Regions from separate parts of the Homo sapiens genome. Here all the other regions are linked to region 1. The links come from fine-mapping of genetic effects on gene expression. A gene starts in region 1. Each other region holds a variant in brackets. All regions are shown on one strand. Distances are from middle to middle.

Evidence for each region. PIP is the estimated chance that this variant, and not a neighbour inherited with it, causes the effect.
Region 2: its variant is fine-mapped to the expression of MAP3K15 in whole blood (TOPMed, PIP above 0.99).
Region 3: its variant is fine-mapped to the expression of MAP3K15 in whole blood (TOPMed, PIP 0.98).

Annotation. Positions count from the first base shown.
Region 1 is chrX:19,509,691-19,520,410 of GRCh38, forward strand. MAP3K15 (mitogen-activated protein kinase kinase kinase 15) reads right to left here and starts at 5,818. Exons shown (of 29, transcript NM_001001671.4): 1 at 5,211-5,818. The coding sequence starts at 5,571.
Region 2 is chrX:19,387,969-19,398,688 of GRCh38, forward strand. It overlaps MAP3K15 (mitogen-activated protein kinase kinase kinase 15), which reads right to left. Exons shown (of 29, transcript NM_001001671.4): 15 at 10,258-10,391; 16 at 7,113-7,240; 17 at 4,375-4,505; 18 at 4,034-4,139. Among named protein-coding and RNA genes, the nearest start is that of PDHA1, 49 kb to the left of the region's middle. The variant C/T (reference allele first, on the strand shown) is at 6,152.
Region 3 is chrX:19,567,766-19,572,765 of GRCh38, forward strand. It overlaps SH3KBP1 (SH3 domain containing kinase binding protein 1), which reads right to left. Exons shown (of 18, transcript NM_031892.3): 13 at 1,338-1,423. Among named protein-coding and RNA genes, the nearest start is that of MAP3K15, 55 kb to the left of the region's middle. The variant T/C (reference allele first, on the strand shown) is at 2,451.

The DNA.
Region 1 (10,720 bases):
AGCAAGAGCAAACACATTCAAAAGCTAGCAGAAGACAAGAAATAACTAAGATTGGAGCAGAACTGAAGGAAATAGAGACATGAAAAAACCTTCAAAAAAATCAATGAATTCAGGGGCTGGTTTTTTGAAAAGATCAACAAAATTGATAGACCACTACCTAGACTAATAAAGAAGAAAAGAGAGAAGAATCAAATAGACACAATAGAAAATGATAAAGGGGCAATCACCACTGATCCCATGGAAATACAAACTACCATCAGAGAACACTATAAACACATCTACACAAATAAACTAGAAAATCTAGAAGAAATGGATAAATTTCTGGACACATACACCCTCCCAAGACAAAACCAGGAAGAAGTCAAATCCCTGAAAAGACCAATAACAAGTTCTGAAATTGAGGCAGTAATAGCCTACCAACTAAAAAAATCCTAGACGGACTCACAGCCGAATTCTACCAGAGGTACAAAGAGGAGCTGGTACCATTCCTTCTGAAACTATTCCAAACAACAGAAAAGGAGGCCAGCATTATCCTGATTCCAAAACCTGGCAGAGACACAACAAAAAAAGAAAATTTCAGGATGAACATCGATGTGAAAATCCTCAATAAAATACTGGCAAACCGAATCCAGCAGCACATCAAAAAGCTTATCCACCATGATCAAGTCGGCTTCATCCCTGAATGCAAGGCTGGTTCAACATACGCAAATCAACAAACATAATCGATCACATAAACAGAACCAATGACAAAAACCACAATTATCTCAATAGATGCAGAAAAGGCCTTCGATAAAATTCAACACCGCTTCATGCTAAAAACTCTCAACAAACTAGGTATTGATGGAACATATCTCAAAATAATAAGAGCTATTTAAAATAAACCCATAGCCAATATCATACTGAATGGGCAAAAGCTGGAAGCATTCCCTTTGAAAACTGGCACAAGCCAGGGATGCCCTCTCTCACCACTCCTATTCAACATAGTGTTGGAAGTTCTGGCCAGGGCAATCAGGCAGGAGAAGGAAATAAAGGGTATTCAATTAGGAAGAGAGGAAGTCAAATCGTCTGTTTGTAGACAACATGATTGTATATTTAGAAAACCCCACGGTCTCAGCCCAAAAACTCCTTAAGCTGATAAACAACTTCAGCAAAGTCTCAGGATACAAAATCAATGTGCAAAAATCACAAGCATTCCTATGCACCAATAAAAGACAAACACAGAGCCAAATCATGAGTGAACTCCCATTCACAATTGCCACTAAGAGAATAAAATACCAAGGAATATAGACCAGTGGAACAGAACAGAGGCCTCAGAAATAACGCCACACATCTACAACCATCTGATCTTTGACAAACCTGACAAAAACAAGCAATGGGGAAAGGATTCCCTATTTAATAAATGGTGCTGGGAAAACTGGCTAGCCATATGCAGAAAACTGAAACTGGACCCCTTTCTTACACCTTATACAAAAATTAACTCAAGATGGATTAAAGACTTAAACGTAAGACCTAAAACCATAAAAACCCTAGAAGAAAACCTAGGCAATACCATTCAGGACATAGGCATGGGCAAGGACTTCATGGCTTAAACACCAAAAGCAACGGCAACAAAAGCCAAAATAGACAAAGGAAATCTAATTAAACTAAAGAGCTTCTGCACAGCAGAAGAAACTATCATCAGAGTGAACAGGCAACCTACAGAATGGGAGAACGTTTTTGGAATCTATCAATCTGACAAAGGTCTAATATCCAGAATCTACAAGGAACTTAAACAAATGTACAAGAAAAAAACAACCCCATCAAAAAGTGAGCAAAGGATATGAACAGACACTTTTCAAAAGAAGACATTTATGTGGCAAACAAACATATGAAAAAAAAACCCATCAATACTAGTCATTAGAGAAATGCAAATCAAAATCACAATGAGATACCATCTCACGCCAGTTAGAATGGCGATCATTAAAAAGTCAGGAAACAACAGATGCTGGAGAGGATGTGGAGAAATAGGAATGCTTTTACACTGTTGGTGGGAGTGTGAATTAGTTCAACCATTGTGAAAGACAGTGTGGCAATTCCTCAAGGATCTAGAACCAGAAATACCATTTGACCCAGCAATCCCATTGCTGGGTATATACCCAAAGGATTATAAATCATTCTACTCTAAAGACACAGGCAAATGTATGTTTACTGCAGCACTATTTACAATAGCAAAGACTTGGAACCAACCCAAATGCCCATCAATGATAGACTGGATAAAGAAAATGTTGCACATATACACAATGGAATACTATGCAGCCATGAAAAAGGATGAGTTCATGTCCTTTGCAGGGACATGGATGAAGCTGGAAACCATCATCCTCAGCAAACTAACACAGGAACAGAAAACCAAACACTACATGTTCTCACTCATAAGTGGGAGTTGAACAATGAGAACCCATGGACACAGGGAGGGGAACATCACACACACACCCCAGGGCCTGTGGGGAGTGGGAGGGGAGGGAGAGCATTAGGACAAATACCTAATGCATGCTTAAAACCTAGATGACAGGTTGATTGGTGCAGCAAACCACCATGGCACATGTATACCTATGTAACAAACCTGCACGTTCAGCACATGTATCCCAGAACTTAAAGTTAAAAATAAATACTTGGGCCGTTCAACAGTTCCCCTCCCCCACAAGCCTTTTTCCAGAACAGCATTGTTCAATAGGACCTTCTGAGATGAGGAAAGAGTTCTGTAACTTCACTGTCCCACCTGGGAGTTACTTGTGCCTACGGAGCATGCATTTATTCGTTTATTTAGAGACAGGGTCTCGATCTGTCACCCAGGCTGGAGTGCAGTGGCATAAACACAGGTCACCGCAGCATCGACCTCCCGGGCTTAAGTGATCCTCCTGCCTCCACCTCCCAGGTAGCTGGGACCACAGGCACATGGGTGCCACCACATCCTGCTTTTTTTTTTTTTTTTTTTTTGCTCAGGTTGGTCTTGAACTCCTGTACTCAAGCAATCCTCCCGCCTTGGCCTTCCAAAGGGCTGGGATTACAGGCGTGAGCCACTGCACCTGGCCTATCAAGCGCCTTAAATGCCACTAGTGCAACTAAGGATCTTACCATTTTTACCGTATTCTAATCAGTTTAACTGTCAAGAGCCACCTGTGGCTAGTGGCTACCAAATTGGACAGAGTGGTTTTAGAATTTTTACAAAGAAGCCAAAGTGAGAGCTCTGTATCTTTTTTGGTGGAAACATCAAAAAGCAGTGAGTGATGGAGGACGAATCCAGGAGACAGTGGAGGTGCTCATCTGTTTAGCCCAGGAACCCACTTACTGTGTATGTACTTTCTCAAACCTCTGAAAGCAATTCTAATGCACTGAGAAATGATTTACTCAAGACCAGGACAAGGTTAACCAAAGGGAGCTCGTGGTACAGCCCAACATTCTAGGCCACCCAGGCCAGAGTGAGCCAAGGTGACGTGTCTGTTGTGTGGCTCCAGAATTGAAAGCCTGAGATTTGACGTCTGCATCTTCACAGTCGACCTGTTAGAAGGGCCCCCCGTACACACACACTCCGCCCCAGGGAAAGCAAAAGCCACCGCACACAAATCTTTCAGAGGTGGCACCAGCAGGAAGGAGAGTGTTGTGCCTCATGGCAAAAGGAACATTTAACCGTTCAGAGAAGAGTCTGTTCAAACTCCAATTTTGGAGCAGAATGAATACAAGTTGAGAAAACGGAGTGGTTCTAGGTGAAGTGGACTCCTGAACGACTTTTCTAAAAAGATGTTGTGCTGAAGAGTATACTCAGTGTGGTCAGAAATGTCAGGAGAGTGCTTTCAATGGGTCCAGCTGCCACTTGTTTAAACAAGCCTGACTCCCCCCCTACCCCGCCCTTCCAGCTGGGGAGAATTTGCTCTGCAAGAAAAACAGATCTGCGCTGCCTCCAGCAGAGGCTGAATCCTAATCATCCTAGCTTACTATTACAGCAAAGCAACTTCCCATATCCTATCTCATCAGCTTTTAGGTTTAGGGTAGGCACTGTTAACTCCCTTTGACCAGAAACTGAGGCACAAGGACTCCCAGGTAATTACTGTCTCACATATAATGCTTCTGAACGTCACCCAGGTGACAGAGGTTTGTCACCAAAGGTGCTGTAAGGGAAAAAACGTCAAGCAACAATTCATTCCACACCGAGAGAAACTCTTGCCAATCCAAAGTACGCTTCTTAAGGCTGGATTCTCAGGCACATTTATTATAGTGAGTTTAGAGACCTAGAGTCCCACTCCAGCAAAGGTGCCCCCTAACCCGTGAATGCTGTGCATTATGGGATAAAATATACGTCACAGGGTGGTGGCTCACACTCCACCGTCAGTGTTTTGGGGACGAGAATTGAAGTGTGCAAAAGAACACTGGGTATTTCTAAGTAGAGGCAACACACACACACGTAAGACACCGATTTCCACTCCTGGCTGCAAAATGGAATCGCCTGGGAAGCATGACACTTCTAAGGCCTCGGGTGCTTATGTCATTGGTCTGGGGTCCGATCTGGGCACCCAGAGTTTTAAAAGCTCCCCAGGTGATTCTAATATGTAGCCTGCGTTGGGACCCACGGCCGTAAGAGACCTTCCAGGAATGAGAAAGCAAAAGTTGGATAACTTGGGAGAAGGGGGGCTTGGTAGGGTCTGGGTTACAGGCTGTTTCTTGGGTTATCTGATGTTTAAGATGCCTGAAGAATCAAAGAGTCTAAATGCCCGTGGCCTCTATTTTCTTATCTGTAAAAGGGCACAATGTTAAAGACTCTACCCTCCCCCAAAGGCAGGACGGTCCTGTTGGACGGATCAGGGGGTGAGAGGATAGGAGGGGGGCTAAGGGGAGGGGGATGAGAGGAAGGGGACTAGGGGAAGGGGAGGTGGACTAAGGGGAGGGAGACTAAGGGGAGAGGGGACTAAGGGGAGGGGGGCCTGCGGGAGGGGGGACTGGGGGAGGGGGATAAGGGGAGGGGGATAAGGGGAGGGGGACTAGAGACGAGGGGGACTGGGGGAGGGGAGGGGGACTAGGGGGAGGGGAGGGGGACGAGGGGGAGGGGAGGGGGACGAGGGGGAGGGGAGGGGGACGAGGGGGAGGGGGACGGGGGAGAAGGGCGAGGGGGCGGGGCGGGTGCCCTGGCTCGTGTGAGGGTAGGTGAACTGGGACTGAGGTGGGGACGAAGCCGCTCTCACCTGCGTCGTAGAAGGCGTCGAGCACGGCCGTCTCCCCGAAGTCCAGCTCCCCGAAGGGCACGGAGGTGAGGTGAGCGCCCTCGGCCTCGCAGGCCCGCAGCAGGCACTGCCGCGCCCCAGCCTCCGGGCCGCCGGCCGCGCCGCCCTGGGAGCTCTCACTGCGCACGTATACTGCCCGCAGAGCCCGCCGCGGCCCGCCCCCACTCTCGCCCTCGCCGCTGCCGCCTGCCGCGCCCTCCGCCGCCCCGTCGGGCTCCGCCGGCCCGGCCGCGCCCTCCACCCCCGGCGGCGGCGGGCACTGAGGGGACTCGCTCGCCGCCCCGAGGGCCCCGGCCGGAGCATTCCCACCGCCGCTCTCCATGTGCCCGCCTGCGCGCCCTTCCCCTGGGCGAGTGGCCAGCGGCTGCGATCCGCTAGGAGGCACAAGTTACAGCAGCCGCGCAGGCGGTCCCGGCACCTGCTCCTGAAGCGCGGGACGCTACGGGAATCGAGGGAACGGAGCGCACCGGGGACCCCGCGGCGGGCCGAAGACGGCAGTACCCCTAGGCTGCAGCCTGACGCTCAGGCCCCAAGGCCCCCAGCGCCCTTTGAAGGCCGGAGAGAAAGAGGCGGGGGCTGGGGACGTCAGGGCGAGCGAGGGGCGGGGAGGGGGCCGGGGAGGGCGGCGGGGCAGGAGCGGGGAGGGTGCCCCCTGCTGCCCCCTCCAGGCAGCGCCCGCCCGCAGCCGGGAGACGCCGAACACGGGAACAGGAATTGGGGTTGTTTTTTTTTTTGTTTTGTTTTTTGTTTTTTGTTTTGGCCATCCCTCTAGCCTGACCACCATTAGGAGCTCCAATTTCTTTTTTCTCAAAACAACTTGAAGCATTCGAGCAGGGTAAAAACTCTTTCAAAGCATCGGTTGGATGGAAATGTTCTATTCCCAACTCAATACAGACGTATTAATAGTTTTCACCCGGCATTGGGATGAACGGATGCTTCATCCCTGGTTGCCAAGCGCACGGCCCCCCGTGAGCCCTGTGCCGGAGGCGAGCTCGTCCTGGCTTTCGCCGTGACCTTGACAAGGCACAGGGAGGCACCAGCAACAAATTTTGTCTGGAAGATAGACTCCAAGTACGCTGCCTGCCTGACCTTTGAAAATGCCGTGAACTCAAAGGGGCCCTCACTCGGATCTTAGGCACTTCACGAATTTGGACACAAATATTAAAAGAAAATAGTGTTACCACTGAGGGTAATACCATTATTCTTATTTTTTATCTTTTTTGAGACAAAGTCTGTCGCTATCGCCCAGGCTGGAGTGCAGTGGCGCGATCTCTGCTCTAGGCTCACTACAACCTCTGCTTCTCGGGGCTCAAGCGATCCTCCCACCTCAGCCTTCAGAGTAGCTGGGATTACAGGCACGCACCTCACCATGTCCGGCTAATTTTTTTTTTTTTTTTTTTTTTTTTGTATTTTTAGTAGAGACGGGGTTTCACTATGTTGGCCAGGCTGCTGTCGAATTCCCGAGTTCAAGCGACCCGCCCGCCTCAGCCTCTCCAAGTGCTAGGATTACAGGCGTGAGCCACCGCACCTGGGTCATTGTTTTCTAAAAGATAGAATGCACCGGACGCTGTCACAGACTTGGAGGTTTTTCTTTTTTCAATTGCAATATTATTTTTAAACTTTATTTTTAATTGACAAATAATTGTATATATTTATGGAATACAATCTGTTGTTTTTCATTTAAGTTCAGGGGTATATGTGCAGGTTTGTTACACAGGTAAACTTGTGTCATTGGGGTGTGTTGTATAGATTATTTCATCACCCAGGCATTAAGGCTAGTACCCATTAGTTATTTTTCCTGATCCTCTCCTTCCTCCCACCCTTCACCCTCTGATAGGCCACAGTGTGTGTTGTTCCCCTCCATGTGTCCATGTGTTCTCATCATTTAGCTCCCACTTATGAGTAAGAACATGGGGCATTTGGTTTTCTGTTTCTGCATTTGTTTGCTAAGAATAATGGCCTCCAGCTCCATCCATGTTCCTGCAAAGGACATGATCTCATTCTTTTTTATGGCTGCATAGTATTCCATGGTGTGTATGTACCACATTTTCTTTATTCAATCTACCATTGATGAGCATTTAGATTGATTTCATGTCTTGGCTATTGTGAATAGTGCTGCAATGAACATACACATGTATGTGTCAACAGAGTGAACAAACAACCTACAGAATGGGAGAAAATTTTTGCAAACTATGCATCTGACAAAGGTCTAATATCCAGCATCTATAAATAACTTAAATTTACAAGAAAACAACAAACAGCCCCATTAAAAAGTGGGCAAAGGACATGAACAGACACTCTTCAAAAGAAGACATACATGTGGCCAACAATCATATGAAAGAAAAGCCTCAACATCACTGATCATTAGAGAAATGCAAATCAAAACCACAACTAGATACCATCTCACACCAGTCAGAATGGCTATTATTAAAAAGTCAAAAAATAACAGATGGTGGCGAGGCTGTGGAGGAAAAGAAACATTTATACACTGTTAGTGGGAGTGGAAATTAGTTCAACCATTGTGGAAGACAGTGTGGCAATTCCTCAAAGACCTTATAATGGAAATAACATTCCACCCAGCAATCCCGTTACTGGGCTTATACCCAAAGGTTTTCTCTTTTTTAATAACAGCTTTATTGAGCTATCATTCACATACCATACAATTCACCCATTTAGAGGGTACGATTCAATGAAAGTTTTTAGTATATCCACAGCGTTGTGCAGCTATGGCCATAATGAGTTATACAACATTTTCATCACCCCACGCCCCAGTGCAAAAATCAATCAGTACCCATTAGAAACCACTCTCCCTCCTTCCCAACATCCCCAGCTCTAGGTAACCATAAGTCTACCATCTCTGTAGATTTGCCTATTCTGGACATTTCATACAAATGGAATCATGCAATGTGTGGACATAGGTTTTTGAGCATATACCGGAGCAGGATTTCTGGGTCACATGCTAACTCTACAGTTTTTTTTAGAAAACGTTTTTATAGAGATGGGGTCTCACTATCTTGTTCAAGCTGGTCTCGAACTCCTGGCTCCTACCTCGGCCTCCCAAAGCACTGGGATTACAAGTGTGAGCCACCACACCAGGCTTACCTCTGTGTTTAACCTTTGGAGAAATTTCCACGGTTTTCCAAAGTGGCTGCACCGTTTTCCATTCTCACCAACCAGCAGTGTTCCAATTTCCCTGCATCTTCACCAACACTTGTTATTGTTTTTGGATTATGACCATCCTAGCAGGTGTGAAATTGTACTTCATGATGGTTTTGATTTCTATTTCCCTGATGGATAATGACACTGGGCATCTTGTCATGTGTTAATTATTGGCCATTTGTATAACAACTTCTGAGTGATGTCTATTCAAATCCTTTGCCCATTTTTTAATTGAGTATTTGTCTTTTTATTATTGAGTTGTAAGAATCCTCTACATATTGTGGATAGAAGTTCCTTATCAGATATGTGATTTGCAAATATCTTCTTCCATTCTGTGAGCTGTCTTTTTACTTTCTTGAGGGTGTCCTTGGCAGCACATCACAAGCCATTTTGACACGTGCAGGATAGGACTTATAAAACATTTCAGCTTCTTTGCATGCTTCAGTACTAATACAGTCCACCTCCCACCCCCAAAGAAAGCAGAAACTATCTGTATAAATCCATGAAGAAATCCTGCCCTCGTTCCAGCCCTGGCGGAAATCACAAGCAGCTTCCATGTGCATCCTCGTCTGTGGTCAACGAATGGAAAATGGGTTCTGAGGAAATCTGTGAGAACACACAGACCAGGCTGGGAAGCAGGAAAGCTCAGAAAAACTCTCCACACCTTGTTCTAAGACATTTTTTGTATGATGCTATAAAAGGACACATGTATTCTTTGTAACGTTGTAATGCATAATAATAGTAATTTTCCTAATATGCCTGTTCATCTGGAATTATTCCAGGGACTGCCACAGCCTTCAGAAGGGCAAAGATGCCCACTTAAAATCCCTTGCCAGCATCTTGCTGTTGTCCCCATCACAATCTTCCCGAATTCCTCTCAGCTCTCACTGGGGCCCTGCTGATGGAGTGAGACCCACGGGAGCTGTGAATTCTGGCTTGAATAAGAGCTTCCTCTAAATACAAACCCTGCTGAGTAAATGCTGAGAGCGCAGCATTTACCCAGCTAACGAGCACCTTCCCTGAAGTTGGGACACACAGCCCACCTTCTCATTGTGTGTAGCAATTTGCACACCTGAAGCATGCCCTGGCCCCTTCCCCCAATGTCCTTCCTACCTCCCCCCAGCCCCACTGAGAAGAAAATTGCAAAATGCTGGATTCGTTTCTTCTGTTTAATTGAACAACTGTCTTGTTCTTACCTTTGCCTTGCCCCTTATTAAGTACATGCCCTGGAAACAACTTTGTCCTAATGTAGAGGTATCATGGAAAGTTCTTCCATATATTTAATTTTTTTTTTTTTTTTTTTTTTTTGAGGCAGGGTCTTGCTTTGTCACCCAGGCAGGAGTGCAGTGGCGCGATCACAGCTCATTGCAGCCTCAACCTCCTGTGCTCAAACAATCCTCCTACCACATTTTTTTATTTTTTTTGTAGAGATGATGTCTCACTATGTTGCACAGACTGGTCTCCAAATCCTGGGCTCAAGCAATCCTCCTGCCTTGGCCTCTCAAAGTGTTGGGATTACAGACATGAGCCACCATGCCTGACCTCTTCCATATATTTAGAGGAAATCCCTTTGTGAGTGCTACCCACTATTTTTTTTTTTTTTTTCAGACAGGGCCTTGCTCTGTTGCCCAGGCTGGAGTGCAGTGGTGTGATCATGGCTTACTGCAGCCTTGACCTTCTGGTCTGGGCTCAAGCAATCCTCCCGCCTCAGCCTCCCAAGTACCTGGGGTCACAGGTGTATGCCACCATACCTGGCTAATTGTTTCTGTAGAGATGGGTTCTTGCCATGTTGGCCAGGCTGGTCTCAAACTCTCGGGCTCAAGCAATCCTCCCACCTCCGCCTCCCATAGTGCCGGGATTACAGTTGTGAGGTACTGTGCCTGGCCACACCCACTGGTTCCAATTTAATTATTCTTCCACATGGCAACTGTCCAAGAATTCTCCTTAAGTCTTCTCTTTTGCAGGTGATACCCCACCTCCCAGGCCCTTCGATCATTTCTCCATGGCATCATTTCCAGACTACTCTCCACCCTGATGACCCTCTCCTAGAGGATTCCATATTTGTCTCTATTGTTGTTTTGTGTATGTAAAAAACTTTTTTAATTAAAATGTTTTCTTTTGAGATAATTGTAGATTCACATGCAATTATAAGAAATAAAACAGAGACATCTAGTGTACCCTTGATCCAGTTTGTCCCAATGTTAACATCTTGTTGTATACTACCATAACCGAGACATTGACCTTGATACAATCAAAATACAAAAGAGGGCCGGGCACAGTGGCTCACACCTGTAATCCTAGCACTTTGGGAG
Region 2 (10,720 bases), 120 kb before region 1:
GCAAAGCCAGCTTCCAACAGTGCTAGTCAAGTAACAACTTTCCCTGCCCCTGTCCTCTCCTTCCTGCAGCTGGTGATTAGGGAGAAAAAGACAACACCCAGCTCCTGACCACAGGTCGCTGCCTGCAGGGAGACGGGAGAGGGGTCTGACTTTTGAATGAGGACCAGAGCGTTGATCAGTATCAGCCTGAATCTTTTTTTTTGAGACAGGGTCTTGCTCTGTCACCCAGGCTGGAGTGCAGTGGCACAATCGGCTCATGCAACCTCCGCCTCCCGGCTTCAAGCGATGAGTCCTTTTTAATTCCTGAATTCAGACTGTGTGCGCTCCTTCAAGTGTCATTATGACTTTCTCTGTTATGTAAGGGTGGCTGGAAAAGTCAAAGGAAAGAACTCCCGCCCCAGGCAGGATGAAAAGTGGGAGAGAAAAATCCAGTGGCTTTTGTGATTACACCCTTTGAGTCCAATGGGTTCAACACGTTAGTTACACACACAAACTCAGTTCTCTCAAAGGCTCCTTCCAGCTCTAATAACCCATGACTTCTAAGTACAAGCGAGTATTTAATTAGCAAACACTTCAATTGCACTTGCTATGTGCCAGGGACCAGTCAAAGCACTTCATCAGTAACTCACTTTACCCTCATAAAAACCCTATGAGTAGGTACAACGAGCATTTCTATTTTACTTACGAAGAAACTGAGGCACATGGAGGTTAAGTAATATGCCCAAGGTCACACAGCTAGCAAGTGGTTGGGCCAGGATTTGAACCAACGATGTTTGCAGCCAGACGAGAACAGACTTCCTGTCCCGAGTTCTCCCTCTAGGTATCTACCCAAGAAGGCTGAAAACACATGTTCACACACGCTTTGTATGTGAATGTTCACAGCATCATTATTCGCAGTGGCCAAAAAGTAGAAACAATCCCAAATGACTGTTAACTGGTAAACGGATGAACAAAATGTGGTTCTCCACACAATGGAATGCCATTCAGCCATGAACAACAACGAAGTACCCATACACACCACTGCATGGAGGAACTGCAAAAACAGGACTCAACGTGCAAGAAGCTACATGCAAAACCCCACATATTGTATTCATTCCAAGCATATGAATATCCACAACGGGCAAAGCCACACAAACACAACAAAGCAGATGAGTGATGAGCTGGGGCTGGAGTGGGAATGGGGATGAGTACCAAGGGGCACGGGGTCTGCTAGGTCCAGACACTGGATCGTGGTGATGGCTGAGCAACTCAGTAAATTTACTGAAAACCAAAGAATTGAGTACTTCTAATGGGTGCTTTGATGATATGTCAGCTATACCTCGATAAGGCTGCTAAAAAAAAAAAAAAAAAAAAGGCAGGGCTGACCCTGGCTATAACAGCCCTTCCTCCTGTTCTCGCAGGTTCCTATGTGTGGGGCAAACCCTTCAGAGGAACACAGGGAGGGAGGGCTCCAGGCCAGGAAGTTGACTGAAACCCTCTGGCTCTCCTGCCAGGCTGAGCAACCACAGACCCAGAGTTCTGCACCAACCAGCTGAGATTTCCTTACAGAACTGCTCTGTTTTGCAAAGAGCAATTATATGCGGGGGAATTTCCTAACCAAAATGAGACCCCTTCCTTATTATCCCCCAAACACCCCTGCATTCTTTTGCAATGCAAAATCCGTGCCTCCCCAAGCCAATTACTTGGGAAGTGTGATATGCAAGGATGAATTATACATGTGTTTCTTTGTGAGTTTGTTTCCTCCTCAGGGAAGCTAATTATGAGATAAATTGTTGGGGGTTTTATGTCTTCAAATAACTCCTTGTCATATCAGAGCCCCTCTTGCTATGTATTGCCAAGCTAATTGGTGGCTTCCAAAGAGGAGGATACAAGTCATTTTCAATTAGGGTAGTAAAATGCTAAAAGAAAATGAAGTGCTAGTCATACACACATATTCATATACACACATTGACAGATGTATACGTATATTTATACCAGAAACAATGAATGAAAATTCAATGCACTCTTTCTTTGGGAGATTCTGATAGTGTCCCTGGTATAGTATTTTCCCATTTTCAGGCACATGTACCTCCCCTTGTGTTACAAGTGAGAAGTCATTTTGTGATGTATTAAAATTCTCTTTAGATGGTGAATGTGTCTCCACTGTGGGTGTCCAGTGGCTGACACGCGACAACTCTCTCATTGACAAAAAGTCTTTCAAAGCTGACACATTATTTACCAAAAATAAGACCCAAGCTGTCCACCCTACAGCTTTGGTGACTGCAGAGATAGAGAACAGTCACCTGTCTTTTATAGCTTATTTCAGAGCTATATTATTTTAAGAGCTAATTTTTTCTTTTTTTTTTTTTTTTTTTTTTGAGACAGAGTCTCACTCTGCCACCCAGGCTGGAGTGCAGTGGCACAATCACAGCTCACTGCAGCCTCAACCTCCTGGGCTCAAGCGATCCTCCCACCTCAGCCTCACTAGTAGCTGGGACCATAGGCGCACACCACCACACCCAGCTAATAATTACTATATAATATATGTTATATACATATATTATATATAATCATTATGTATTATATTATATATAACATATAATATATAAATATAATATGTAATAATAATAATTATTTATTTTTTGTAGAGATGGGGTTCTCCCTATGTTGCGCAGGCTGGTCTTGAACTCCTGAGCTCAAGTGAGATCCTCCTGCCTCAATCTCCCAAAGTGCCCAGCCTATGAAAGCTGTTTTTTTTTTTTTCTTTTAAGAAATGGGGTCTCACTATGTTGACCACGCTGGTCTTGCACTGCTGGCCTCAAGTGATCCTCCCATCTTGGCCTTTTAAAGTGCTGGGATTACAGGTGTCAGCCACTATACCAGGCCCCAGCTGTTTCATAATTCCATCAAGCAAGATCTTTGTGATCTTTACGTTACTCCTTGGGGGACTATAAACCTTTACTTATTCAAAAATCAGTACTTCTTTCCAAGGATCAAAGTTCTTGTTATTAGTCAGGTTTAAGCAGGAATTTCCAATAGCCACAAGTAGCTTTTGACCATCATTCTACTTATTGATCTTACAACTGTGAAACTAGCTGGTAATTGTATACCACCCTTTGAACCCAGTCCCTCTCAATGCTCAAGTTATTCCATTACTGACACATGGACAAGAAAATCCAATTCCTCAAAATCACTTAGAATACCATATTCCCCAGGAAGAATTAGCCTCTCTTGGAAACACAATCATATCAAAACACAAGGTACCAGAATTCACTACAGTAACAGGCTATTTTTATGACAGACCAATAAAATGTCTTAATCAGTTGTCTGAGGAATACTGTTATTCAGCATTACCCACGATTTCAGATAATGTGCTATTAACTTTAAAGAGATGTGCTGCCATCTTGCTGATTGGTTGAGTGACCTTCAGAAAGCCTCAGCAGAGGCCAGGCGCGGTGGCTCACATCTGTAATCTATCCCAGCACTTTGGGAGGCTGAGGTGGGCGAATCACTTGAGGTCAGGAGTTCGAGACCAGCCTGGTCAACATGGTGAAACCTCGTCTCTACTGAAAATAGAAAATTAGGTGTGGTAGGGGGCGCGCCTATAATCCAAGCTACTTGGGAGGCTGAGAGACGAGAATCATTTGAACCCAGGAGGTGGAGGTAGCAGTGAGCCGAGATCGTGCCACTGCACTCCAGCCTAGGCGACAGAGTGAGACCCCGTCTCAAAAAAAAAAAAAAAAAAAAAAGAAAGAAAAAAAGAAAAAAAAGAAAAGAAAACCTCAGAACCTCAGCAGAGCACTCCATCTACCCAACTTTTGGATGACAAAGAAGAAAGTAGGGCAATCTTGTTGCCACAAGTAGCTGGCTAGGTGCATCACTATGACAAAGTTAAAACAATTTGAAGTTGGGGACAATCCACTGTCTACTTCAAGTATCAATTGCTCACTCTGCTCAGAAAAGGTGCTCACTAAGTAACGGCTGAACAACCGCAGCTTGTGCAGAAAGCGTAACTCTGGGATGGGCACCCTGTGCCAAGCTTTGGTCCACTTACCAGTAAAAGTCTCTGTGCAGGGGTTCACACCCGCAAGACGTTTCGAGGTTCCAAAATCGGAGATTTTCACCACTCCGCTGTAGGTGTTCACCAGAACATTATCGCCCTTCGGAAAATAACATCATCAAGTGCTTAAAAGACAGGCTGAAACGAACTCATATGAAACAGATCTGGACCTTGGGAAACCGTCACAAGTCTCTAGGAAAACTAGACTTTGCATTTTGGGGACGGTTGTGCTAAATCATACCCCTCTGTCAGCCAGTCACTCAGCAGACACCATCGACAGCTCTCATGATCTGATACGAGCAAAGGCAACCTCGTCAGCTTAAAAAAGCAAGTACCTTTATGTCTCTGTGCACGATCTGGTTTTCATGAAGATACTTAAGGCCCTCCAGGATCTGTTTGGTGTAAAACTTGATTGTCGGTTCCTTCATCGGCCCCCATTTGGATCGCAGAAGAGCAGAAAGGCTTCCTAGAGACAGTCACAGCAAAAAACTTATCAGGAAGAGAAAGTTTCAATAAAAGTTCAGGGAAATAAAGTGAGGTGAGGTTTCTAACCTAACCTAAGTGCTTACACCAACACCATCGGATCTGGGCTAAATGCAACATGTTTCCTCCCCTCTGTAGCTACAGCCAGGGAATGGACTGGAAGCAATTGAGCACATGAACCTAACCAGAGGCACAGGGTGAACATGAACCCCTTGTGCCCCCTGAAATTCAGTGGGGCCAATTGTGGGTTTAGCTCTGTTCAGCTACATGAAGTTAGGAGGAGAGCGAAATAATGCTCTCTCAACTTGAGGGGCATGGCCTGCTGGCGTAGATAACTCAGGTCCCATGACACTTGTTTACAGCAGGTCTGTCTCAGTCATTCTGCTTGGGTTAAAGCCACGTTTTATACCTTGTCTGTAATCAGAGGTGGACAGGTCCACAGTGAGGGGCCCTTTAGGGTGACAAGGACTAGGACTGGAGGAAGTTGGGTCTCTCTGTCCTCAATGTGAGAAAGCCACAGTGGCAAGTCTCAGGGCAGGACTGTCTTGATCAACAACCACTTCCCCCAATTACGCTATTAAACACTGAACATTTGGGCCAAAAGAAAAGCTCCCTTAAGGACACTGTGACCACGTCTCGAAGGACATCATGTGAACTGCGGGATGTCCTGTCCATTGGCAGGAACGGGCCCTCAGACATCGGCTGGTCTCAGATTCCCACTTACACAGTGTTATGGGACCTTGATCTACCTTGGTTTCCCCATCTATAAAAGGGGATGAACACATCTGTCTCTATTTCTGTTGATACCCTTAAACCTAACGCCGGGGATGGGGTTATCAACTAACGTGAAGAGTAAGGGGCCGGGCACGGTGGCTCACGCCTGTAATCCCAGCACTTTGGGAGGCCGAGGCGGGCAGATCACCTGAGGTCAGGAGTTCAAGACCAGCCTGGTCAACGTGGCAAAACCCCATCTCTACTAAAAATACAAAAATTAGCCAGGCGTGGTGGCACGCACTTGTAATCCTAGCTACTTGAGAGGCTGAGGCAGAGAGAATTGCTTGAACCCAGGAGGCAGAGGTTGCCATCAGTGAGCCAATATCGTACCACTGCACTCCAGCCTGGGCAACAGACAGAGAGACTCCATCTCAAAAAAAAAAAGAAAAAGCAGCAATGGACGAGTTTTCTGATAGACTATGACCAACTTAAGGGAAAGACAAACTACTTTATTTATTCTAACATAACCCTGAAAATCTAGCCCACTGCCTGGCTCTTTTTTTTTTTTTTTTTTTTTTTTTTTTTGAAGACGGAGTCTCACTGTGTAACCTAGAATGGAGTGGAGTGGTATGATCTTGGCTCACTGCAACCTCCTCCTCCTGGTTTTAAGCGATTCTTGTGCCTCAGCCTCCGGAGTAGCTGGGACTACAGGCGCACGCCACCACACCTGGCTAATTTTTTGTATTTTTAGTAGAGAGGGGGTTTCTCCATGTTGGCCAGGCTGGTCTCGAATTCCTGGCCTCAAGTGATCCACCTGCCTTGGCCTCCCAAAGTGCTGGGATTACAGGCGTGACCACTGTGCCTGGCTGACTGCCTGGCTCTTAATAAATATACTTAAGACTCTTCCTGTAATAG[C/T]AGACTCTTAATAACTGTCAGTTGAATGAATGAATGAAGATTTCTAACTGAAGTTTTAACATCTGTATTCAGATAACTATTATTTAATTAAAGAGTTTGATTCATTATTTCAATGAGCACTTACTGAGCTCTTGTTCTCTGCCAGACAGAATCCACCCAACAGCCCACTGAGACAGCGTTAATTGTTACTCCAATAATTATTACTCCAATTATCAGAGTCATTATTACTCCAATTTTACAGTTCATTTATTCAATCAGAAAACTGAGGGCACAGAGAGGTATAACAATTTGCCTGAAGTCACACAGCTTGTGGATGGAGGAACGGACTCAGACTAGATGGTCTGGGTCCAGATCCCAGGAACTCCCCTCCTGTGCCCTATCTCTTGCATTCAGGGATTTTTGTGGATAAAACACTGATGCTTGATTTCATTATCAAAATGCTATTTTGCACTGTCACTTTTAACATCTATGTTCCCTCTTCTGCACCCTTGTCCAAACCCACCTTTAAACTCCTAGACTGTGAAGGCCTCAAGGCCAAAGACTATGTTTTCTCCATAGACAGTCAATGAATATTTGTGGGTTGAACAAACTGCATCAACAAACCAGAAATAGACTGCTTATATGACATTTGGAAAGTATCCAACTTTCCAACATCTAAAGGGTCTGTTGCTTTTTTTTTTTTTTTTTTTTTTTTTTTTTTTTTTTTTTTTTTTTTTAAAAAGAGTGATGGGTTTTGCTCTGTCGCCCAGGCTGGAGTGCAGTGCTGTGATCATGGCTCACTGCAGCCTTGACCTCATGGGCTCAAGTGATCTTCCCATCTCGGCCTCCCAAGTAACTGGGACTACAGGCGCCCTACAGGCCTGGCTTAGGGGTCTGTCATTTTGTAAATGGCAGGACAACAAATGACATCCACGTCGTAGTGATTTTCAGAATGTGAGACCAGAAGACAGCGACTACTCACCTCCAGGCACCTGCTCCATAAATATCTTAATGTAGCCGTTCTCTGAAACAGAGCCCAGGTACTGAACGATATTGCGGTGCTTAAGGTACTTGTGCAGGGCTATCTCCTCGTGCAGAGGCTGAGAATACCTATTGGGAAAAACAGAGCCAGGGTCACCTGCCAAATCCCAGGGACTCTAGAACCACATCTCACCTCACCAGGACCTGCCCCACTGCTGCCCATCCCTTCTTTCTGGAAACTTTCTTTTCTCTGGCTTCCATGAAACTATTCAACTTCCCATCTGTACAATAGAGGATAAGCCTACAGCCATGCAGGGCTGCCAGGGGCCAAGGCATGTCCATTTCATTAAGCACTTAGTGGAGTAGCTGGTGTGTGGTGAGTATTCAATGAATGACTGCTATTGTTACTACTGTTATTTTTCGGGCCTGAACCCACCAACCATTCTTTACCTCTCTCAACAGCCCCTCTTCCTCTGCCTCCCATGAAGAGTGGTGTTCTGGAAGGTTCTGCCCTCAGCTGCCCTCTCGTCTTATTCTACAGAGTCGCCCCAGACCACAACAGCAGCCACCTAATGGGCCACCCAGCCCCAGCCTCTGGCCTTTTTAATCCATTCCCCAACCTTGGCCATTATACTACCTCTTCTTAAAACACACACTTCACCACATCCCTTCCCCACATAAATTCCACATAGAGACCATGCTATTTAATGTCACATACAAGGACTTTCAAAGATCAGTTCAGGCTAAGCCTTAAAAAATTTTTTTTTGGCCTCATTTCAAGAGCATCTCACTGCCCTGCATCCTACATTCAAGTCATATCAGACAATCTGTTGTTCTCTGAATATACTTTGTGTTTTAACAGCTCTGTTTTTCCATCAGCATAGGCCTCCTTTTCCGCTAAACAAATTCTTACTCATCCCTCAAAGTGCAGCTCAAAGTTGATCTATTTTTTCAAACTTGCCACAACTCACTAAGGAGAGTAATTCATTCCTCTTCTGCGTTCTAAAAACACTCTGTGTACTCCTCTATCATGGCACTTGGCACTTTCACTCAGAGGCAAAGCATCTGCATTTGCCACCGAACCAGCAGAACCCTGGGAAAAGGACACTATCCTAATCACCTTTCGGTCCCCAGTGCCAGCCCAGAGTCTGACACAGAGAAAGTACCTATCATCATAAGTTCAGCCTATAAATTTAGGGAGTTGAACAAAACAGTCTCTAAAGGTCCCTTCTAGCTCTTAAAATCCCAGGAACTACTGATCAGCAACAAAAAGCTAGAACAGCTATTGCTACCAAATGAAGGAGATGGGACATGCCAGAAATTTCCCCAAATAGATACAACTGCAACACCTTATCCATCATGAGAAAAGAGACTGGATGCTGGATGAGGAACTCAAGAGACTCGGATCCTAGTCTTGTTTCTAAGCATCCTTGGGAAAGTCATTTAATCTTCCTCAGTCTTGATTTTCTTATTGGTGAAATGAAGAAATGGAAATAGTTCATTTCAGGTCCTGTCTCATAATTCACGTATCATAACATGCTATCCCACTGAAAATCAACAAATACATGAATGGATGAATGAAGGGTCTTACAGCTGGCAGAAATCCCTTAAAACTCATCCCCAATATATCAGCAATCACCCAGATACATGGGTGTTTACACATTATTCTTCAGCACTCGACACTGAAGGCAATCCTACAGCTGTGGTCTGACACACCTGTGGATCCCGGAATGATTAATTCCAACTGTGTATGTAGCTTCTCTACAGAAACACTTTGCAGTCAACATTGCAATGCTCATTTTGTTGGGGTATAAATTTAAACTTTTTTTTTTTTTTTTGAGACAGGGTCTCACTCTGTCACCCAGGCTGGAGTGCAGTGGCACAGTCTCGGCTCACTGTAGCCTCTGCCTCCGGGGTTCAAGCGATTCTCGTGCCTCAGCCTCCAGAGTAGCTGGGACTACAGGTGTGCGCCACCATGCCCACCCACCTAAGTTTTGTATTTTTAACAGAGACGAGGTTTCACCATGTTCCCCAGGCTGGTCTTGAACTCTTGACCTCAAGTGAGCTGCCCGCCTCAGCCTCCCAAAGTGCTGGGATTACAGGCTTGAGCTACAATGCCCGGCTAGAAACAAACATTTCTTAAAATTAAAAAAAGTCAAAGAAATGAATAAGCAGTACTCATGGTAGAAAAACAGTCCAAAATCCATGTGTGAGGGTGAAGGGTAGGATGTTAAAAAAAATTCTGTACTGCAAAAATCTGATTTTTTTTATCTGCATGTAATTTTCCACAATGATGCATCTGAACAAATCATAGCCATTTTCAACTGCTACAATGTAAATTTAAAATAACCCAGTAATATTTAAAAATTATATTTGCACTCAAAAATTAGACAGGCATGGTGACGTGTGTCTGTAGTCCCAGCTCCTCAGGCGGCTGAAGTGGGAAGATCACTTGAGCCCAGGAGGTGGAGACTGCAGTGAGCCGAGATCTGCCACTGCACTCCTGCCTGAGTGACAGAGTGAGACTTCATCTCAAAAATGTATATATATTTGCAAACAACTACGCAAAAAATGTAAAACTTTAGACCTAGCCAATGGGTGGAAACACAACAAAAGTTTTCTTTTAAAATATGATCCTCTGCAATCCACGTGCCTCTGAAGTGTAGTTCTTCCATTTTCTCAATCTATAATACACAAAACAAAAGCACATCACCCTGGCCGGGCGCGGTGGCTCATGCCTGTAATCCCAGCACTTTGGGAGGCCAAGGCGGGCAGATCACTTGAGGTCAGGAGTTCGAGACCAACCTGACCAACATGGTGAAACCCCGTCTCTACTAAAAATACAAAAAAATCAGCTGGGCATGGTGTAATCCCAGCTACAGGTTGAGCCATGAGAATTGCTTGAACCTGGGAGGCAGAGGTTGCAGTGAGCCAAGATCATGCCACTGCACTCCAGCCTGGGCAATAGAGCGAGACTCCGTTTCAAAAAAAAAAAAAAAAAAAAGATCACCCCTATTACAAGAGAATGACAGGTTTTGTGGTAACACAATGCTTTTGCCCTTAACTCCTCCACACCATGAGCGGTGGGTATGGGATCTGGGGTGTGGAGACGGCACCCGAAATGCGGAAGGCCCGCCTGGACTTGCCTGCTATCTCTCTCCGGGATTTCTTTGATGGCTATTCGCACTTGATTGCTCAGATCTCGGCCAGCATACACAATCCCATACGTGCCTTTCCCCAAGACAACTCTCTCACCATTTGCATCATGGTCATACTCATACTGAAGAAGGAAAAACAAAAGGACAAAAAAGCATACAACTTGTAGCGGAGAAGCCCTCTAAGGCCCCCAGAGTTGTCTAGCAACTAAAAAAAATATAAATAACATTATTTGACTGTCAGGCAAGTCACAGTGCTTAGCTTAGGCCCTTTTCATTAAATGACTTTAAAGGGGCAGAATTCTCCATTGTTCACCTGTTCATAGTATGACTTTATGAAATGGAATCCAAGAAAATTAAAAATATGGTTTGCATATAATTGGCTCACCTTTTGGAAATTCTTCCCCATTTTAACGCTGCAATTTAAAACTGCTTCTAAGCATGTTGAATAACC
Region 3 (5,000 bases), 55 kb after region 1:
ATGACTTCAAAATAAAAAGTTCAATTAAAACAAAGTAAATTTTAAAATTCAGCCTTCTATATTATGTAGAATACGAGAGAATGCTAACTTATGACCTTGATAGGTACAAACAGAAGATGTAAAGCTAAAAAAAATTTATACTATTTGGCCATAAAAACGAGATCCTATCATTTGCAACAACATGGATGGAACTGAAGATCATTATGTTAAGTGAAATAAACCAGGTGCAGAAAGAGAAACATTGCATGTTCTCACTTATTTGTGGGATCTAAAAATCAAAGCAATTGAACTCATGGCGGTAGAGAGCAGAAGGATGATTACCAGAGGCTGGGAAGGGTAGTACAGGGCTGGGGTGGGGAGGCGGTGGGGATGGTTAATAGGTACAAAAAATATAGTTAGAAAGAATGAATAAGACCTACTATTTGATAGCACAATAGCATCTCTATAGTCAATAATAATTTAATTGTATATTTTAAAATAGTGTAATTGGACTGTTTATAACTCAAAGGATAAATGCTTAAGTGGATGGGGAAAAATATGTTGAAATGAAGACTTGCACATGGTTGCAAGTTTTTCTTAAAGCAGGTCATTTTCCTCTTCCCAAGAAATGTGATAGCCTGTTGCTAAACAATATGATTATTTTTATATATTTCTATCATTAAATGGCCTTTATGTCAAAAAATAAAATAAAATAATAAGAAAAAATTAGTCCCTGAATCTGGACTTCTTAAAAGGGTTGTCACCCAGGTCAGACCACTAGTGGCCTTAACAGCACACCGGTGGCCTCACACCCACTCACGTACACCTCCAAAAGGACCTCTGACTTTTATTTACCCAGAGAGACTGTAGCTCCCTCCCATTTATCACATGGTGGTATCCTGACCTTGGGAAAACTCACTCATGTTCTGAACTAAGTGGCAATTACCATACCAAAGCTCATTTGAAACTCAGTCAAAAGTGCTGTATCAACAATGAACCCTGCCATCTCACATTTGCATCCATCCACCTTTTTACACAAAATACACAAATCACTGGAAACTGTGAACATAAGGGCTAATGCCCACTTTTTACAAAAAGGCTTATTCATCATTTCTTTTCATTAGATCTTGTAAGGAATTTCTCCTAGGGAGGGGAAAGGTCCCAGGCATTGTGTTTTAATGTGGAAAGCACCATCATTTCCCTTCTTTACAAAACTGTAACACCTAAAGCCAAGCAAGGGTGCCAGCCTGGCATTTCAATGGCTTTATTACTTCTCATCATGCTGGTTGAAGGCAAGCCAGGCTCTGAGGTTCTTTACTAACTCTGCAAAGAGAAGCGAGAACACTGTCCTTACTCACCAATGTCATTGCTGCGGTCCGAGAGATCTTTGTCCAGGATGCCAGATAGCGAACTGCCGGCCAAGTCAATCTTTGGACTGTCACCCCTACATTAAAAACACAAGCCCAGACATTTAATAATTGGTGTGTGTCCTTGTCATTCTGTCAGTTTTCTTGCTGCACACGTTAAGGAGTGTGCTGGTGTGGAGTGGATGGCACTGTTGCCTGTGAGGGAGCCAGAGAACCAACGAGCTGTCTAGCCACATGAGATGGGGTGCAGACCAGCTGACAGGCTGGATGCGTCCCTCTCCAGCACACGTTTTCAAAAATGGCTATTTTAATAATGACTGTTCGCCCATGTACTTCCAGCCACAAACCCTCCTGCTGGGTACACAGGGTGCAGTATAGGGCCTGCTCCTGCCCTGCGGCCAAATAAACACTGGCTAATGATAACTGGGAGCTTTCCTTTTAAGGAACAAGGAATTTAGCCAATGCTGCTTGTCAAAGGTCAGCTACTTTCAACCTTGAGAAAAAGGTTTTCTGGCCTGGGGTTGTGGCATCAGCCAGGCTGTTGAAAGGCACAAGGTGTCGAGTTGAGATCTGGCGGCCTGAATGCTGGTGCTGGGGCTCAGGCCTGTAACATTAGACGGCTCCTGGATGGGTGCCCCATGCTCATCAGGACACGAATGACTTCCCTCTGTATCTGGGCTAGGAGCAGCTCTATGGGATGGGAACAGGCCTCCAAGATGACGAGAGAAACCTAGCCTTCTCATGCACAAACAGAAGGTTCCTCCAAATTACTCCACAAGACAGCTCTTTGCACCCTTTTGGGGGGATGAGTCACAAACGAGTTTATCCAAGGGCTATGAGAGCGGTGAAATAGGAAAAGATCCTTGCCCATAAAATGAGAGAGAGAAGCTGAGCAGTTGTTCCCAGCAAAGTAACAGAAATAGTCCATCTCACCGCCCCGAAGGCCACCATGGCCTGAAGTTACACCTCACAATGAGTAGTACCAGATTTAGTCAACAAGCACTTGTCATGTGCCACTTGTGCTGTGGGTATTCAGAGGTGTGCCTACTCTGGAATGGCTTGTGGTCTAAATGGGAGAGACAGCCAGCCAGCCACAGGTACACA[T/C]GGCCTAGGCTATAAGACGCAGGTGTCACAGTCCTATTAGAAGAAAGGAGTGGGTCAGTGCAGGAGATCTGTGAGGCAGAGGGTAGTGGGCAAGGAGGTGGTGTTACACTTGAGCCTTGGAGGAAAAGGGAGAGAGGACATATTCCTAAGAGGTGTGACTGAGCAATGACTCCAGTGTAGGTGAGAGTGCCAGTGTGGCCAAGTCCCCCGGGACCAAAGCCTGAAGTCCTCAGAGAGAAGTGACAGGACAAAGGCTGGCAAGGTTGGTGAACACCTGACTGCTGGGCCGGATACTACAGGGCTTGTTTTGTCTGGGAGGCAATGAGGGGCCGAGGGACGGTTGTAGCAGGAGACCTGTATACCTGGAGGTCAGGTCAGGGCAGGTGCTGTGGGTAAACTCCAAACCAGGGAGCTGACAGGACAGACTGCTGCGTTTTTCACTCAAAGAATGGGTGGTGAGCAGGGCACGGTGGCTCACATCTATAATCCCAACACTTTGGGAGGCAGAGATGGGAGCATTACTTGGGCCCAGGAGTTTGGGACCAGCCTGGGCAATGTGGTGAAAACCCATCTCTACAAAAAATACTAAAATTAGCCAGGTGTGGTGGTGCACGCCTGTGGTCCCAGCTACTTGGGAGGCTGAGGCAGGAAGATCACCTGAGCCCAGGGAAGTTGAGGCTTCAGTGAGCCGTGATCGTGCCACTGCACTCCAGCCTGTGTGACAGAGTGAGATCCTGTTTCAAAAAAGGGAGTGTTTGTGGGCGCATTTGGCACAACATGCATATTTTTGTGATGGGAGAAAAGGACCAATGGAAGGAGGTGAGTCCTCCTCAACTCCCAAGCAAAAAACACTGCCTCTTAACCTCAAGCATCCTCCACCGCAGGAGGGGCAGGGGTAAGAATACCAGGGACCAGGCCTAGGCCTAATGGCTTGGCCTCCACTAAGAGAAAATACAGCTCCAAGACTGTCCTGGGAGTGTGTGCTATGATGCTGGCTGGGCCCTTCCAAGCTAGGCTGAAATAGAAGTTCAGGTAGAGCATGAACTCCTGTACTTGGAAAGGAGAAGCAGCTTAGGCTTCAGAGAAGGACCTTTATTTCCTGCCTCACCCTAACTTCCTAAGGCTGTGGGCTCCCCTAGGCTAGGTTTCCACAGCAGACTCCCTCTCCGTCCCCTGGCTACCCAAGCTTGGGCCCCACCAGGGCCATTGCCTCAGACTGATCCCGAGCCAACAGAAAGGGCAGGATGGAGGACATTTATTTCAAAACATTTCACTGTCAGGGCCCCAGCACCCACTAATTTGAAGGTAACCTGAATGAAATGTTTCAGAAATGCAGAATTATTAGCAGAAATGCATTTTCATTTTTAAGAGTTTTCCCCAGATATAAAGAAATACATTCCTGGGGACCCTTAAACATCATTACCTGGGATCCACAGATCCCAGAAGGATTGGGTGCTGCCATCCTTCAAAATAACAGACTAAACACAAATTATACTCACAACCAGACAGCTCTGTCCTTTTTGAAACACACCAAAGATCAAAACTTATAAGACCACATGTCCTGCCCAGGAGAAAGAGAGCACTCAGGCAGTGAGTTTAGTGAACTCTACTTGGCTTTTTTTTTTTTTTCCAGTCAAGAGGGAAAGATGGTTTGAGGTGATACCCTGTGGGCAGCTGGGGTTAAGTCAGAGGGGCTGCTGGCAGAAAGATGAAGTTTTGCTCATGAGTTAATCACATGTATCTCAGAACAGCTCAGCAGTTTCTGAACATGTGGCTTATTTGTGTATTATGGTAACTGTCAATCTGGGAGCTGCTGTTTCCCTCTGCGATTTGACAGCTGGAAGCTTCCAATCAAATGTGAGCCCGTCTCCAGAAACTTTAGAGGACCCTATTGTGCATTACTATGCTTTATTACTTTACTGCTCTTATTTTCCTTTTATTGTCATTCTCAACTATTCTTTTATATATATAAAGTACATATATATGTTATATATAGTACATATGTTATATATAGTACATATATATGTTATATAGAGTACATATATGTTATATAGAGTATATGTTATATATAGTCATATATGTTATATATAGTACATATGTTATATAGTACATATATATGTTATATATAGTACATATATATGTATATATAGTACATATATGTTATATATAGTACATACATATGTTATATATAGTACATACATGTTATATAGTACATATATGTTATATAGTACATGTTATATATAGTACATATATACTATATATAGTACATATATGTTATATATAGTACATATATATGTCACATATATGTACTCTCTCTCTCTCTCTGTCTATATATAAAAGAGTAAAATGTTTTTGTTTTTTTAAGACATGGTCTCATTCTGTCGCCCAGGCTGGAGTGCAGTGGCGTGATCTCGGCTCACTGCAACCTCCACCTCCCAAATGGATTTTATGCATCAGTGTGTTTTTCACAGTGTTATTTGTAATGAAGAAAAACTGAAAAGAACTAGAATCTTTCATAAATAGGAAAACACTTGAATAAACTATGATATT